Linked DNA regions of Homo sapiens: region 1 is linked to region 2. Evidence: fine-mapped expression QTL. Tissue or cell type: cerebellar hemisphere. Region 2 holds a variant in brackets; the other region holds the start of a gene. All regions are shown on one strand. Distances are between the middles of the regions.

Region 1 (8,000 bases), 670 kb before region 2:
TGCCACACTTCCACAGAAAACAAATGATACAAAGCCTTATCATCTGATTTATCCAGTAAAACATCAAGAATTTACAGCTTGGCCAGGCGCGGTGGCTCATGCCTGTAATCCCAGCACTTTGGGAGGCCGAGGTGGGCGGATCACGAGGTGAGGAGATCGAGACCATCCTGGCTAATATGGTGAAACCCCCTCTCTATTAAAAATACAAAAAATTAGTCGGGCGTGGTGGCACAGACCTACAGTCCCAGCTACTTGGGAGGCTGAGGCAGGAAAATCACTTGGACCTGGGAGGCGGAGGTTGCAGTGAGCTGAGATTGAGTCACTGCACTCCAGCCTGGGGGACACAGTGAGACTCCGTCTCAAAAAAAAAAAAAAAGGAATTTACAGCTTGAGTCAACTTTCCAGGAACAATATTATATAAGCTGAACTACACTTATATTTGTATTAAATGAATAGGATATCAAGTAAATTTTATTTTACATCCTTAATTTGTTCTCATTCTTATGGAAAGATTTCAGTCTTAATGGCTTCTGAAGTAAAAATTTTAGGCAGTAGTTTTGCTTCTCTACCTTGTTGTAGAATGGCATCTCCCAAATGTACATTTGATGACACACAAAGGTTGAGGGGCAGGGGGGGAGTTCAAAATGTGGTTGCATGGATTGGTGGGTAAAACAGGGGCTAGGGTTTTTAAAGGAATATACACCATTAAAATAAACAAAAGACATAATTTTCCACAGAAGTCACCAAAGAATCAAAATATGTAGGCCGATAAGTGTATGACTTTAGCGCCTTTTATTTTTCCTGATCACTTTACACAATTATAAAATGGATAGAAAAAGTTTTATCTTTTGTTAGGTTTCTTTGCTTAAAGATTCAGCAGCAAAAATGCAAGATTTTAGGGTTTTTTTTTTTTTTTTGAGATGGAGTCTTGCTCTGTCGCCAGACTGGAGTGCAGTGGTGCAATCTTGGCTCACTGCAGCCTCCACCTCCCAGGTTCAAGCGATTCTCCTGCTTCAGGCTACCGAGCAGCTGGGACTACAGGTGTGCACCACTAGGTCCAGCAAATTTTTGTATTTTTAGTAGAGACGGGGTTTCCCCATGTTGGCCAAGGTGGTCTTGATCTCTTGATCTCGTGATCTGCCCGCCTCAGCCTCCAAAAGTGCTGGGATTACAGGCGTCAGCCACCACGCCCGGCCAACTTTTTAGTTTCTAACTAGAAGTACGTTTTACTACTGTAGTATTTTTACCATTAACATTAGGTTGTGATATGTTTCATCTGAAAAATTATAACACTTACCTCACAATCAGGGCATATAATTGTGGTGCATTCTTCAGTCATTAACAAGCATAGTTCACAAAAAGCATGTCCACATTGAAGTTCACAATGGTGACCTATTGATGAAATTCTTAATTATTATTTTGATGATGATGATGATTATTGAGACAGGGTCTTGCTCTGTTGCCCAAGCTGGAGTGTAGTGGCACCAGCTCACTGCAGCCTCCACCTCTTGGGCTCAAGTGATCCTCCTACCTCAGCCTCCCAAGTAGCTGGGACTATAGGTGTGTCCCAACACACCCGGCTAATTTTACTGAAGAAATTCTATTGTGATTAAACTGCCCACAGTGTGTTAATGTTGAATGGGCAATACTGATACAAGGGAAATTCAAAGAGGATCCTACTGTACAGGAAAAGATACCTACTACAGTTTGAAATGGTTGACTTATTGAATATAAATCAGGAGTAACCAACTATTCAGGTCAGGAGGGAGAAAAATCAAGAAGAAAAACCAAGAAGAGCTATGTAATAGCATTTGCATTAATTCAGATGGCTATTTTGTACCTAGAATACTTTGAATCTGCCATATCTTACACAAAGTGCTCTGACACATTTTATTTGTTATTTGTAAATATCACAGTTAAGTGGGCTGGAGATGAAATAGCATTTTGGAGATTTGGTTAACTAAATGGTATAATCCAGACTCCTATCTAGCTCTGTTTCCAAGTCTAACATTCTTTCTGATTGATCATACTGCCCTCTACTACTTTATATTTCCCATCCTGTGAAGAGGTCAGGAAGGGCCAAAATGAGACACTGGCAAGACCGTGCTGTTAGAATTATTTAAGACACTGGCAAGGCCAGAAGCCAGATGCTACTATTATCACATATCTACAACTCACATTTTCACAAACTTAGCATTTATGAAAGGAAATATCGTAACTTGATTGAAAACCTAACATCATGATTAAATGCTCTAAGAATTTGAAGTTTATAATAAATAACATTTGTTTTAGCTATATAATTTCAAAAGGTTGTCATTTTTAAAGTTTTGCAAGAAAACTGAAAAGGGAAAAAAACTAGATAAAAATCAGTCATCTTTTACTAGCAAAATAATTATAGAGTTCTTGCTGAATTATAATCGCATTAATTTTATTTATTTATTTATTCATCCATTCATTCACTCATTCTGAGACGGACCACGATCTCGGTTCACTGCCAACTCTGCCTCCTGAGTTCATGCTATTCTCCTGCCTCGGCCTCCGGAGTAGCTGAGATTACAGGTGTGCGTCAGCACGCCTAGCTAATTTTTTTGTATTTTTAGTAGAGATGGGATTTCACCATGTTGCCTAGGCTGGTCTTGATCTCCCGACCTCAAGTGATCCGCCCACCTCGGCCTCCCAAAGTGCTGGGACTATAGGCGTGAGCCACTGTGCCCGGCCTTGCATTAATTGTATTTTTTAAAAACTTTACAAGTTTCCTATCCAACTGAAATACCTGAAACTTGCTTACAACCATGCTAAATTTTAAAACCCTATTTAACTTCCAGGGATAATATTGCCAAAGAAATAAAAACACTTAACTATTATAAAATTTCTGATACTGAATAACTCAAAATAACTTGTGGTGAATTACAGCTTAAAAAGCACTTTCAGGATTCTATATACATAACCACTACTTCTCCAGTTTAGTTTTTCTAAGCATTATAATACTAATGTATGGAAGAAGTACTCATTTTAAAAGGTTGTGTTCTAGAACTTTATTCCGTAATTTTAATTTCATTCAAAAATGGAAATTTTCTACGTAACGGTAGCAGTGATCTAAACCCCAAGTAGGAGAAACTTGGTTCTCCACTGAAATCACAACTTTTTCTGCAGAGGCTCACATCTCACAGAGTCCATCTTGCCAAGACTGAGAAAACTGATCGAATGACCTTAACTTTGAAAGTATAAACATTAAACAGTTACGCCAGGTAATACGAATTTTCAGTAGCTCCAGGAATTGAGATTCAACAACTCAGCTGTATTAAGAGCACACTAAGGTATTTTAAGTTACATTAAAATAACTTGAACCGGCCGGGCGCGGTGGCTCACGCCTGTAATCCCAGCACTTTGGGAGGCCAAGACGGGCGGATCACGAGGTCAGGAGATCGAGACCATCCTGGCTAACACGGTGAAACCCTGTCTCTACTAAATATACAAAAAATTAGCCGGGCGTGGTGGCGGGCGCCTGTAGTCCCAGCTACTCCAGAGGCTGAGACAGGAGAATGGCGTGAACCTGGGAGGCGGAGCTTGCAGTGAGCCGAGATCGCGCCACTGCACTCCAGCCTGGGCTACAGAGCGAGACTCCAACTCAAAGAAAAAAATAATAATAAATAACTTGAACCTGTGATCACTTGAGTAGATTGTAGGTGAACAGACCAATAATAGTGCAGTGTATTTTTCCCCTCACGTATAAAGACCAACACACACACACACACACACACACACACACACACACCCCACAAGGTGCACAAAAGAAACTATCATTTTCCAAACAGTGTTTTAGGCCAGTGTGAGCCATAATGTAAAAAACAAACAAAAAAACCCCCACAGAAACAACAAAATGCTAACAACAACAACAAAATCCAAAACCATTTCACAATGGTCTACTTGTTACTCCTACAACAAAAACTACAGGAGAAAATCAAGTTTCGTTCCTTCTTGATGACAAAACAATGGGCTACATTTTATGTCTACTTTTGCATGCACCCGCTAACCTGCCTTGTGAGGAGTAGATTAAAGCCACCCGGGCCCCCATCCTCCCGGCTGGAGGGTCGGTGAGGCCTGGATGGGTAATTGGAGAAAGCCGTGACAGGCGCAGGTGCTGCCCTTAACCAACCCAAGCACTGCCCTCTTAGAGGTCGGGTGCAGCTCGCGGGAGGCCTGTGACGCAGTTTCTGGTGACACCAGGATTGGATGCAGCTGACCAAGCCTCACGCGCCCACCAGCTCACCTGGCCCCCAGCGCTCCCTCCAGGCTGCCTCCCCGCTAGGTGGGCCCTTGGGCTCCTCACCGGATGATCTGGATACCCTCCTTCCACACCTGGTGCACTGGATTTCAGCGGCACCCCAGGGCTGACTCTTCCTCCCCATTCGCTGGTAGGAAGACCTAGAAGGCCCAGTCTTCGAAGCCTCTGCCGCCATCGCTGTCTCTTTCTTCTGGAACAACCGCCGAGTGCGAGTCCCGGCGGCCCTCGCGGCAGCGACCAATCATTGGAGGCCAGCCCCTGCAGATAGCCAAACAGTGGGCCGGGAGATTAAAGCCCGCCCCCAAGCTCGCTCCTGATGGGGCTGGGGCTGTTTTCCGTTATCCTGGGAGGTACCACTCCTAGAAGGGGCGCCTTGTGGCCGTTGAGGACCGTTCGTTTTTACGTTCTACCCAAAGAGTCACCACTTTAGTGCTTTTAGTCATCACAAATTAAAATTTCGCATATTATTACTTACATTGTGAGTGACTTTATAGATAATCATTTGGATTGAAACAATCCCCTTTCCCTATTACGTGTCAGGGCCAGAAGCCCTAAACCTGTGTGCTTCGGGCATCCAGGGCTTGGCCAATAGCAGCTGGAGTGGAGAAGCTAATGAGAAGCTATCGTTGGGGTAGATTCAGTGAACGCTTTCGAATTAAGGAGTGTTCATCATTACTAACTGCTGTTGAGCCTAATAATATACAAGGCAGCGTGCCAAGAGTGGTTGGGGATGCTAAGAATTTATGAACTAGCAGGTTTCTGCTTGAGAGATACATAACTCCTTAAAAAAACCCAGTAACTTCCGCCAAAATAAGTGTTATGTACCGGACCTGTGTTAGAGACAGTAAGAATTAGCCTTCTGGGCCCGGCGCGGTGGCTCACGCCTGTAATGCCAGCACTTTGGGAGGCCAGGGCGGGCAGATCACGAGGTCAGGAGATCGAGACCATCCTGGCTAACATGGTGAAACCCTGTCTCTACTAAAAATACAAAAAAAAAAAAAAAAAAAAATTAGCCGGACGTGGCGGTGGGCGCCTGTAGTTCCAGCTACTTGGGAGGCTGAGGCAGGAGAATGGCGTGAACCTGGGAGGCGGAGCTTGCAGTGAGCCGAGATCATACCACTGCACTCCAGTCTGGGCGACAGAGCGAGACTGCGTCTCAAAAAAAAAAAAAAAAGAGTTGAAGCAACTTGTCCAAGCATAGTTCACAAAAAGCAATGAAGAAATGAAGTCAATATGGTCTACGGTGGTATGAAAACTCTTCGTAGAGGATATAGGGTTTGCACTAGACCTTACAACCTAGGTAGTACTTACAGGAGTAAACAAGAACTAAGGGATTCCAAGAATAAAGAACACATCAGCGAGGGAAGGTAGATGTGAGGGAAGGTAGATGGAAGACACAGTGACTTCTTGAGAATTTAAAGACCATTTAGCCAGAGTATGAGTTTCCTTAAAGTAAGCTTCTTTGGAGAGGTGTGTCAGGGAAGAATTTCGGAGAATCTCGAGTGTAAGGCTGAGGAGTTTGGACTTTACTCTTTAAGCAGTAGAGTGCATGAGACGTTTTGTGAGCAAGGAATGAAGTAATCTAGTAGAAAGGTGGCAGGTGTATTTCAAACAAAACACCTGGAGGTGGCACGGTTGCCTTTTGCTGCTAAGAATAAAGCCTGCCCATATTCCTCATTTTCTTTTCTCTCTACACTGTGTGTGGGTAACTAGAAACTGTGAAGTAAGTATTCTCTTGAAAGGCTCACTTCGGCTCAAAAATCTTTGTAATTTGTTGTCTTCGAGAGAAAAGTACTGCTTCCCTAAATTACCCTCATTCTACTACTCATCCAATAGTTTCCACTACTAATCCATGATGGAACTGAGTACTAATCAAGCCAATATTCTCATGTAACATGTTGACTCTTCTACAGTTTTGTGAGTATTATTCCCTATTCCCCTCATCTGGAATACCTACTGTTCACTCTTCATCAATTCATATTCTCTTTTTTTTTTTTTTTTTTTTTTTTAGAAATGGAGTCTTGCTCTGTCGCCCAGGCTGGAGTGCAATGGCGAGATCTCAGCTCACTGCAACCTTGGTCTCCGGGTTCAAGCAATTCTCCTGTCTCAGCCTCCCCAGTAACTGGGACTACAGGCGCATGCCACCACGCCCAGCTGATTTTTTGTATTTTAGTATTGACTGGGTTTCACTGTGTTGCACAGGCTGCTCTCAAACTCCTGAGCTCAGGCAGTCTGCCCGCCTTAGGCCTCCCAAAGTGCTAGGATTACAGGCGTGAGCCACCGCGTCCGGCCCATATTCTCCTTATCCTTCCTGGATCAGCTTTAGAAGCACTTTCTCCTTTAAACCTTCACATTTCTCTCCACACTTAATGCTATTCTAGCATGTAGCAAGCCTCTTTTTCCTCTAGGATAGCTGTACTGTAATTTGAATAATGACAATCTCATTGCATAGGTGTTCATCGTGGGCCATAATGTGGATATTTAATGTGGGTCTTGAGTTTCATCAGAGATGCCTTTGGTAATCCCAGAAATTGAATTAATCTTGGATAAATCAGGGCCAGTGAGAAATACACTGATAGATGATTATACCACATTTGTTCATTTCTTAGCACTTACCAAGAACCCTCAAATAGAGCAGCCAGAAATGTCTTCTTAACATTCAATTTAGGTTGTTTAAATCCTTTGTTTGGAACCCTTTAATGGCTTCCTATGAATTACAACAAAACCTTAATGGCCTTGGAGGTTTGCCCTCTGCCTGCCTCTCTACCAGTGCCTTTCTAGTGCTCTAAAATCATCTCCTAAACAGCTGAGAAATGAGATAAACAGGGCTCCCTTCTTGAATACACAATTTTTATAAATTGCATCTGACCCACAGTGAATGTCTTTTAGAAAGTTTCACCAAAACTAAAGAGAAATTCAGAGATCAAATAGCAGCAGCAGATCAGAGAAAGAATGTAGAACTATGCAGTCACAGAGCTAACCTGCAGGCTGCCCTTAGCCCTGTGCACCTGAAATCAAATCCATGGTCAAAGTTAGGTTTCTTTGTTGTTGTTAAGCATATAACATATTTATTCCCAACATAAGAGTGGGATTAATAGAATAACACCAAGCCAAAATATTAATATTCTAAAACCAAATTATTGAATAGAAACATATAACATATTTATTCCCACCATAAGAGTGGGATTAATAGAATAACACCAAGCCAGAATTTTAATATTCTAAAACCAAATTAATCTATTGAATAGACGTATTTCAACATTTAACTAAGTTAACCCATTCAGTTACCTTCTCGAAAATATACACAACAAATAATTTATACTGTTTCCCATAATGGCTGTACTAATTTACATTCCCACTAACTGTATAAGGGTTCCCTTTTCTCCATATCCTTGCCAACAGTTGTTATCTTTTGTCTTTTTTTTTAAATAATCTCCATTCTAATACCGTCTGTAATTTCTCATTGTGGTTTTAATTTGCATTTCCCTGATGATTAGTGACATTGAGCATGCTTTCATATACCTATTAGCCATTTGTATGTCATCTTTTGAGAAATGTCTATTTAGGTCCTTTGCTCACTTTCTGTTTGAGTTGTTTTCTTCCTACTGAGTTGTTTATGTTCCTTATGTATTTTGGATATTAACCCCTTACCAGATGTATAGTTTGCAAATATTTTCTCCCATTCCATAGGCTCTTTACTTTGCTGACTGTTTCC
Region 2 (8,266 bases):
TTCCCCTGAACTTTGGGTCCTGGAGTGAGTAGACCAGGCTGCGAATTTCCTGAGTCACCTACTAGTTGCATGACCTTGGGGAAATTATTTAGCTTCTCATTTGTAAGCACCCAGCCCACAGGCTGACTGAGAGGACTAAATGGATGATGCAACATGTTTAGCACAAAGCCTGGCATATAGTGAACTGTCAGTGCATGAGAACTATTAAATACCTCACACACCCACCCAGCCACCCATGCCGGGTGCACTGACAGCTCCCTCTCTGCATTTAATCCCTCCAGGAAGCCCTATTAATTCTATCTCCATTTCACTTCAACTCCACTGGCACCGTTTCAGCCGGGGCCAACGCTGTTTCTCCTCGAATTTCTGCATTCACCTCTAACTAGGCTCCTTGTCTCCTCTTTTGTCCCCTTTTAATCCATTCTACATAAGGGGCCTGAGTGATCTTTTAAAAGGAAAATCTAGCTATGTCATGCTCTTGCTTCAAATCCTCAGCAGCATCTCCTTACACCTGGGCAAGAGGTCACAGTCCTCTGTGTGGCCTCCACAGCCTGAAATGATCTGGCCTGCATGATTCTTCCGGCTCTGCACCTCCACTTCCTACCCAGGCTGGGCCCACTGAGCTCTCTTCTGCAGGGCTCTGCCCTGGGGCAGCCTCTGCTTGGGATGCTCTTTTCCAGTCCCCCCTCTGTTCTTAGGTGACTCCCCCTCATGTCTAATTTCTCAGTTGAATTTCTCACTTCATCCTAGTGGCTTTCTATGGCTTCTCCATACCTGTCCAAATTAGGTCCCCCTTGTTATTATTATTTTTTTTAGACAGAGTCTCACTCTGCTGCCCAGGCTGTGGTGCGATCTTGGCTCACTGCAACCTCTGCCTTCTGGGTTCAAGTGATTCTCCTGCCTCAGCCTCCCGAGTAGCTTGGATTACAGGTGCCTGCCACCACGCCCAGCTATTTTTTTTTGTATTTTTAATAGAGACAGGGTTTTGCCATGTTGGCCAGGCTGGTCTCGAACCCCTGACCTCAGGTGATCCACCTGCATCTGCCTCTCAAAGTGCTAGGATTACAGGCGTGAGCCACGGCACCCAGGCCTCCTTGTTATTTTCTATTATAACACTCTTTTTTCTTTACAGCACTAACCATAACTTTATATATTTATTTAATGTTGATATCCTCCCGAGACTATAAGCTCCACGTGAACATGGGCTATGTCTGTTTTGTTCTTTGGTTTAGCTCCAGAACAAGTCAGGCACCAGGCAGGTGGTAGGATCCCAATGAAAAGTCACTGAAAAAAGCATCACAACAAGGCATGGCCTGATGCACGGAGGCAGCAGATAGTGAGGGCTCTGGGAGATAAAGGACGCCACCAGGCTTAGCTGGGAAGTGACCCAGGCAGCCTCTCAGAGGCAGGTGTAGGTACCTTGCTGTATTTCTTCTGGAATAAAGGGCTCTGGATTTAGCCCCAACATCTAGGTTCTCGTCTGAAGGAACCTGGGTGTGATAAAGGAAGTCTGAGAGATGCACTGTTATTGGTATGGCACCAGAAACAAGACCCATTTCATAGATAGAAATGACGGTTTTTACAGCTGAACCAATCCAAAGCACTTCGCTGGGATTGCAACACTTGTTTGGGACAGGATGGTTGGGAAAGTTAACCCAGGGAACCAAATTTGTAGGGAAACGAGGGTAGATTGCAAGTCCACTGTTTTGAGTTTTGCATCCACATAGAAGAGAAGTCTGTAGATTCATTCAATACCCAGTCTCATTTTACTGTTATCTAAGGTGGTTTTTCTTTTTAAAAATATTTATTTTTAACTGTGGCAAAATATACATATTTACCATCATAACCATTTCTAAACGTATAGCTCCGTGGCATCAGGTGCATTCCCACTTTCATGTAACCAGCACTTCTATCCACTTCTAGTACCTTTTCACCTTCCCTAACTAAAACTCTGTACCCGTTAAATTTAACTCCCCTATTCTGCACCCCCTACCCCAGCCCTGGGTAACCACCCTTCTATTTCCTATCTCTATGATTTTGACTACTCTAAGTACTTCATATAAGTGGAATCATACCGTACTTGTCCTTTTGTGACTGGCTTATTTCACTTAGTGTAATGTCCTTGACATTCATCTGTGTTATAGCATGTAACAGGCTTTTCTTCTTTTTGTGAAATTATGCAATAAATAATATTTCATTGCCTATGTGTACCACATTTTGTTTATCCATTTATCCACTGATGGACACTTGGGTTGTTTCCGCCTCTTGGCTGTTGGGAATAACACTGCTGTGAACATGGGTGTGCACATGCCTCTTTGAGACTCTGCTTTTCATTCTTTTACATAGATACCCAGAAGTGGGATTGCTGGATCACATGGCGATTCTATTTTTAACTTTCTGAGAAATCTCCATGTTTTACATAGTGGCTACATCATTTTACAAATTCCCACCAATAGCACACAAGGGTTCCAATTTCCCACATCCTCACCAACACTTAGTATTTTCTTTTCTTTTAGTAGCCATCCTAATGGGTATAAGGTGGTAAGGAGGTTTTTACTTAATGAGCTTGAAAAGGCTGTCACCAATGTAGATTTTATTTATTTATTCTGAAATATTTTACATATTAATTTTTAGACACAGGGTCTTGCTATATTGCCCAGGCTGGAGTGCAGTGGCTATTTGCAGGGTATGATCATAGTTTACTGTAACCTCAAACTCCTGGGCTCAGGCAATCTTCCTGCCTCAGCCTCCCCAACAGCTGAAACTACAGGTGTGCACCACCACACACAGCTAACTTCAATTAGGCTTTTAAATTTTAAAACATTTTTAAAAACATTTTAAGCATAAAGAAAGAATAAGGTCTATAGAGCAAATATCTGTGCACCCACCTCCTAGCTTTGTCCCGTCACAGTATTTGGCAGATGCCATTCTGCCTTCCTTGCCCTGCTGTGTGCTGGCATTCTGAGATATCTTGCGATGGGACAGTTTTCGAGTTATCTAATCCTCCCCTACAATGTTGATCCGTTTTTCACAACCCTGAGCAAGCAGAAATCCTTATTCAGAATCACTAAATGTACCCGTGGAAAGCTGCAGTCAAAACCTGGTTTTTCTATGTTAACCCTGAGTTCCCATTTGTGAGGCCACGATGTTCTCGCCAAAGTCCTCAGGATCACACTCCCTACGGGTGCACAGGCATTTTTGTGCTGCCAAGCTGCATCAAATAGTACTTTGGGACATGTTGAAATAATGGCTTTACACCCAAAATGTGCCCCCCACAAACCTGTTCATGCTCTTCTCCCAAATCTTATAGCCCAGGTCTGCTCCAGAGCTGTTCAGGACATTCCGGTATAGAAGGCAGGCACCAGAGACTCATTCATGCTGACATCTACTGTTTACATCCATTCTTCCAGGCATGGCCTACAGCATCATTACTGCACAATGACATCTAACCTCCGGGACGGGGAGAGGCCTGAGGTATATAGTCTGATTACAGTTGAGGCTGCATCAGGTCCCCCCACCCAGAAGGCACATTTTCAACAAGCATCCAAGATGATTCTTACAGTTCCATGACCCAGGCTTTGACACACAGTCCTCTAAGTATTATGACCACAGCCTAGATCTTTTCCCCTGTACCCTTCCTGCCTTTTGGTTCTTAAAGCAACCAAGCTTTTCATAAAATTGTAACATTAAAATAAATAGAAAATATTTAAAATAAACCTATCTAGCAGTTTCCTCACAGCCACCAAGCCAAGCTTCTATTTCCTTTATGTGACTTTGCCTCTCCCCACAATTGGTCCATTTAGCACAGAAGAAACAAACCAATCAGATTTCAATGGAGCATTTTGGGCCTGATCTTTCCAGCTGTTTTTGGGGTGTATCAGAAACGTGCCTGAACTTTGCATCTGTATTGGGACCATTTAATAGGCCATTTCTACCTAAGGCCCATCTCAATTTTCAGGAAGTCATTTTACCTTCGGAAAACCTAGATCACTAACCATACGTCCTCTTTTAAAAATGGCAAATGGTGATAGAGTGTTTGCAAGCTTAATGGCACAGAACAGTGGGATACTGGTGCCTGGAAAAGGAATTTCAGCATTTCCTGACTTGTATTCTATTCAGGAAGGATGAACAGCTTGAGTGAACTCAAAGACATTTGTTTTCACCCTTTATAAAACGTGCTTGAAACCAGGCACAAAGAGACACAGCAGATTCCCACTGATGTCTCTCAGGCAGCCTGACCTTTTAACCTTATGAAATATAGGGCCTGTTTATTAGGGTCAGGTGGAAAATGGATGGATTGTTTATTGGCTTTGGAAAACAATTCAAGTAAAATGTGACCTTACTAACAAAATGTGATCGTGCCCATTGTTTTACCAGGATGCTCTGGAAAATAAGATTAATCATCACGGCCTTTGGTGATCCTCTCAGATTCTCTGTGTAAGAAAATAGTCATCTGCAACGTTAATGAGAAGATGCCAAACACCAAAACATTCAACTTAATGTCAGTGTTTCAGGCTTACTCGGGCAATCTTCTAGTTGTTACCAGCCTTTTCAGTAAGTCCACACAGTGGAGTCTATGGAGTATAAAAGCTCCACATACAGATGCCCAAATATGACTGCTAAGAAATCTACTTTTTTTATAAGCTACAACTTTAAAACATGTAGAAATAG[C/G]AAGCTGCCAAATGTGGCAGTTTGAAAGGGAATAAACAGTACATCAATAGTACAATATGTTTTTAGAGGCAAAGGGCAGCAGAAAATATTCTCTTGTATAGAGTTTCTACATAGTCCATCTCTAAGAGACCCTAAAATGGGCTTTCTGATTGCCTTTGAGTACTCTTAGGTTTCAACTGTTTTTCTTATAAACTCTTACTCTTAATTGGTTTCCATGTGACTTCATTATCACCATTATCTTAAAACTCCTGGCTCCTATTAACTCTTCTGCTTCTAAAATATAAACCATTATCTCTTTTTATTCCAGTTATACCAATTGCAGTCATTCACTAACTATGCAAGAGCAAGGCAGTAATAAAGGCCTACTATGGGGTATGAGAAATAAGTAAAATAAATATCTAGTGTTTTATCTGATCACACCCTTCCTAAAATTGTCTTCCTTAGAGAGCTGCCGGAATGTCCAGAAAACATCACATGATCATTGTTTCCTAACTTGGGTTAAAACACAATCTCAAAAGCACTTTTAAAAGATCAACATTGGAGAAGTTATTGCCAGAATAGAAGAATAAGTACCTCCCTAAACCTGTTCTTCCATAAAAGCAATGAGAAAACTGGCAAAAATGGCCAAAACAAGTTTTTCAAAATACTGCAAATTCACCAAAGGCTTGTAACAATCCAAGGAGTAAAGTGTTTAGTCAAAGACTATGACTAACCGTCAGGAAGAACGGTGATTTTGTGGCATTTCAACCTGCCCTGCTCCCATCTCCCCTCTCTCCAGCTCCATGGTAGCCTTAGACCTGTGAAAGCCTGAGAACAGCAGCCTAGCAGCCATGAGAGGGGCAGAATAAGCCTAGAGCTCCCCTAAAGCCATCCCCAGAAAACTGCCCTTATTTAACTTGCCTGGCTGTTCCCCAAAATACTCAATTCTTTTTTTGAGATGGAGTCTCCCTCTGTCACCCAAGGGCATGATCTCCACTCACTGCAGCCTCCGCCTCCCAGGTTCAAGCGATTCTCCTGCCTCAGCCTCCTTAGTACCTGGGATTACAGGTGCACACCACCACGCTTAGCTACTTTGTGTATTTTTAGTAGAAACGAGGTTTCACCATGTTGGCCAAACTGGTCTCAGACTCCTGACCATTAAGTGATCCACCTGCCTTGGCCTCCCAAAGGGTTAGGATTACAGGCATGAGCCATTGCATCCAGCCTGAAAAGCTCAATTCTTAGAGCTTGTCTTCATTTGACCTTACTCAGAGAATATTCTGTTCTAACAGCCGTATCTCAAAGGCATTTGTCAAACACTATTAATGGCAATTGTTTAACACAGCAGCGTTTTGAAGTGGTGATACCAGATGGGGCTAACAAGAGGCTGACCAAAAAGCTTAAAAGGAAATACTAGGGAATGAGATGTCCATAAGGGGTTTGTAAAGCTATGACATATTATTGAGAACCAGGAAGGCCACACCCATGTGCACGGCTGTGTGTATGCCCAAGCAAGATCTTAGAAGGATTTAGTCTCTCGCCTCTTGCTGACCTTAAGGCCCATTCCTAGCAGAGAGGTCAGGGTAAGGCAGAGATGTGAACTGTGTGCTAGAGTACTGAAGGTCTGCCCCAACACACACACAGAGCCCCTCAGCAAAGGCTGAAAAACTGACCAGTTCAATGCATGTAAGGAAGTCTCTCTCCCATCATTAGGCAACCACTAGGCTAACTAAGCAGAGACTTCGGGAGCTACAAATGACAAAAAAGGCAGACTTTATAGAATCAGACCAGAAGTCACTAAACAGGCAAACAGCATCATCAGCAACAAAAATCCGAGAGAGGAGGGAATCTGGATATTTAATATTTGAAACATCCAGTTTTCAACAGAAGATGTGAGACATGAAAAGAAACAGGAAAGTTTAGTTCCATGCACACAGGAAATAAAGCAGTCAATAGAAACTGTCCAAGGGGCCCAGATGTTGGATTTAAGTTTTTAAGTCAGCTATTATAAATATGTTCAAATCACTGGAGGAGGTCATGTCTAAAGAATTAGAAGAAAGTGAAAGGATGATGTCTTATCAAATAGGGAACATCAGTAAGTTGGGGCAGTCCAGTCAAGAAGCTGTGGTAACTCTAAGTGGGGTAGGGACAGTGGGATGGGAGAAACAGAATGGAAAGAACCATGCTCAGTAGTCTGTAGGACGTGGTGGATTGGATGGGGGAGCATGGGAAAAAAGAGGGCGAGGTCAAAGCTCAGGTGAGGACACCGTTCGGTGAGGGGACGGTCAGGAGGAGCTCATGTTTGTGGGGAAGATAGTTAACCTTAGATGGTTGTGTTTGAGGTGTTTGCGGGGCATCTAGAAGGAGATGCCAAGTAAGTGGTTAAATGTACAGGTTGGATGGACAGGGATGGGCTGGAGCTATGAAAGGGGAAGCTCCATTAACACCAAACCCTGTTCACAGCAAGCAGCATGAGTAAGACCCTGGCCACAGCAGAGCAGAGAAGTCAACACATGTGAGTTTATCATGCAAAGCAGAGGAAAGTCCATAAGGGGGATGTCCAAGTGCAGAGAACTGGGGGGAAATCTGACCAATGTCAGAAGAATTACACTTGCCAGATTTAGAAGAAAAAAAAATAAAGGAAGTCCAGTGCTATAGTCTGAAGCTTTCCCAAAATTCTTGTGTTGAAACTTAATCACCAACTTGATATGGTATTCAGGGGTGGGGCCTTTAGGAGGTGATTAGGTCCTGAAGGCAGAGCCCTCATAAACAGGATGAGAGACCTTATAAAAGGGTTTGAGGGGACAAGTCCATGCCATGTGAAAACACAGCGTTTGGCCCCTCCAGAGGACAGAGCGGCAGGACATCATCTTGGAAGTGGAGACTGGGCCCTCACCAAACACCAAACCTGCTGGTGCTCTGATCTTGGACTTCCAATCTCGAGAACCACAAGAAACACATTTCTGTTGTTTATAAGTTACCCCCTCAGTCTGTGGATTTTGTTATGGCAGCAGAAATGGGTAAAGCACCCAGTGAAATTTGAATTTCAGATAAATGACAAATACTTCCTGTAGGACAACTATATTCAAATATCGCATGGACTGCACTGATATTAAAAATTATTTGGCGTTTTGGTGATTTGTGGTTATTTCATTAAAAGGTACATTTATACTATGCAAATTCTACCACAACACTAACTGATTGCCCTAGCCCAGAGGGGTTTTGTAATATTGCATATTGTATAGAGACTCCATCAGATACAGAACCGGGAGAACTGTCTTTCAGTCTAGACTCTTCTGCCTACTAAAAGACAATAATAGACCAATCTTGTGCCCCTCTGGTCCTTAGCGTCCACAGCAGTGAAAACGGAAATATCTTTATCTCCTTTTTGTTTTTGCCACAACCGAGCTGTTGTGAGAATGTGGTCCGAGTGGTGTGTGGGGGGGTCCCATGCAAATATGGTCATAGCACTGCTCATGGGTTATGACCATACGAACAGCAAACCATGAAGCAGAGGCTGGCCGGCATGGGCATTCAAAAATCATGTGAGACACAGGGGAAATGCAAGACACCAGGAAGGCACTAGAAACTCTTCCTACGTGTGCTTCCGTTATTC

Evidence for each region. PIP is the estimated chance that this variant, and not a neighbour inherited with it, causes the effect.
Region 1: RNF17 starts here. The variant in region 2 is fine-mapped to the expression of RNF17 in cerebellar hemisphere (GTEx, PIP above 0.99).

The regions. Positions count from the first base shown.
Region 1 is chr13:24,760,664-24,768,663 of GRCh38, reverse strand. RNF17 (ring finger protein 17) reads right to left here and starts at 4,495. Exons shown (of 36, transcript NM_031277.3): 1 at 4,331-4,495; 2 at 1,298-1,392. The coding sequence starts at 4,460.
Region 2 is chr13:24,089,138-24,097,403 of GRCh38, reverse strand. It overlaps a transcript of SPATA13 not described here. Among named protein-coding and RNA genes, the nearest start is that of SPATA13, 67 kb to the left of the region's middle. The variant C/G (reference allele first, on the strand shown) is at 4,672.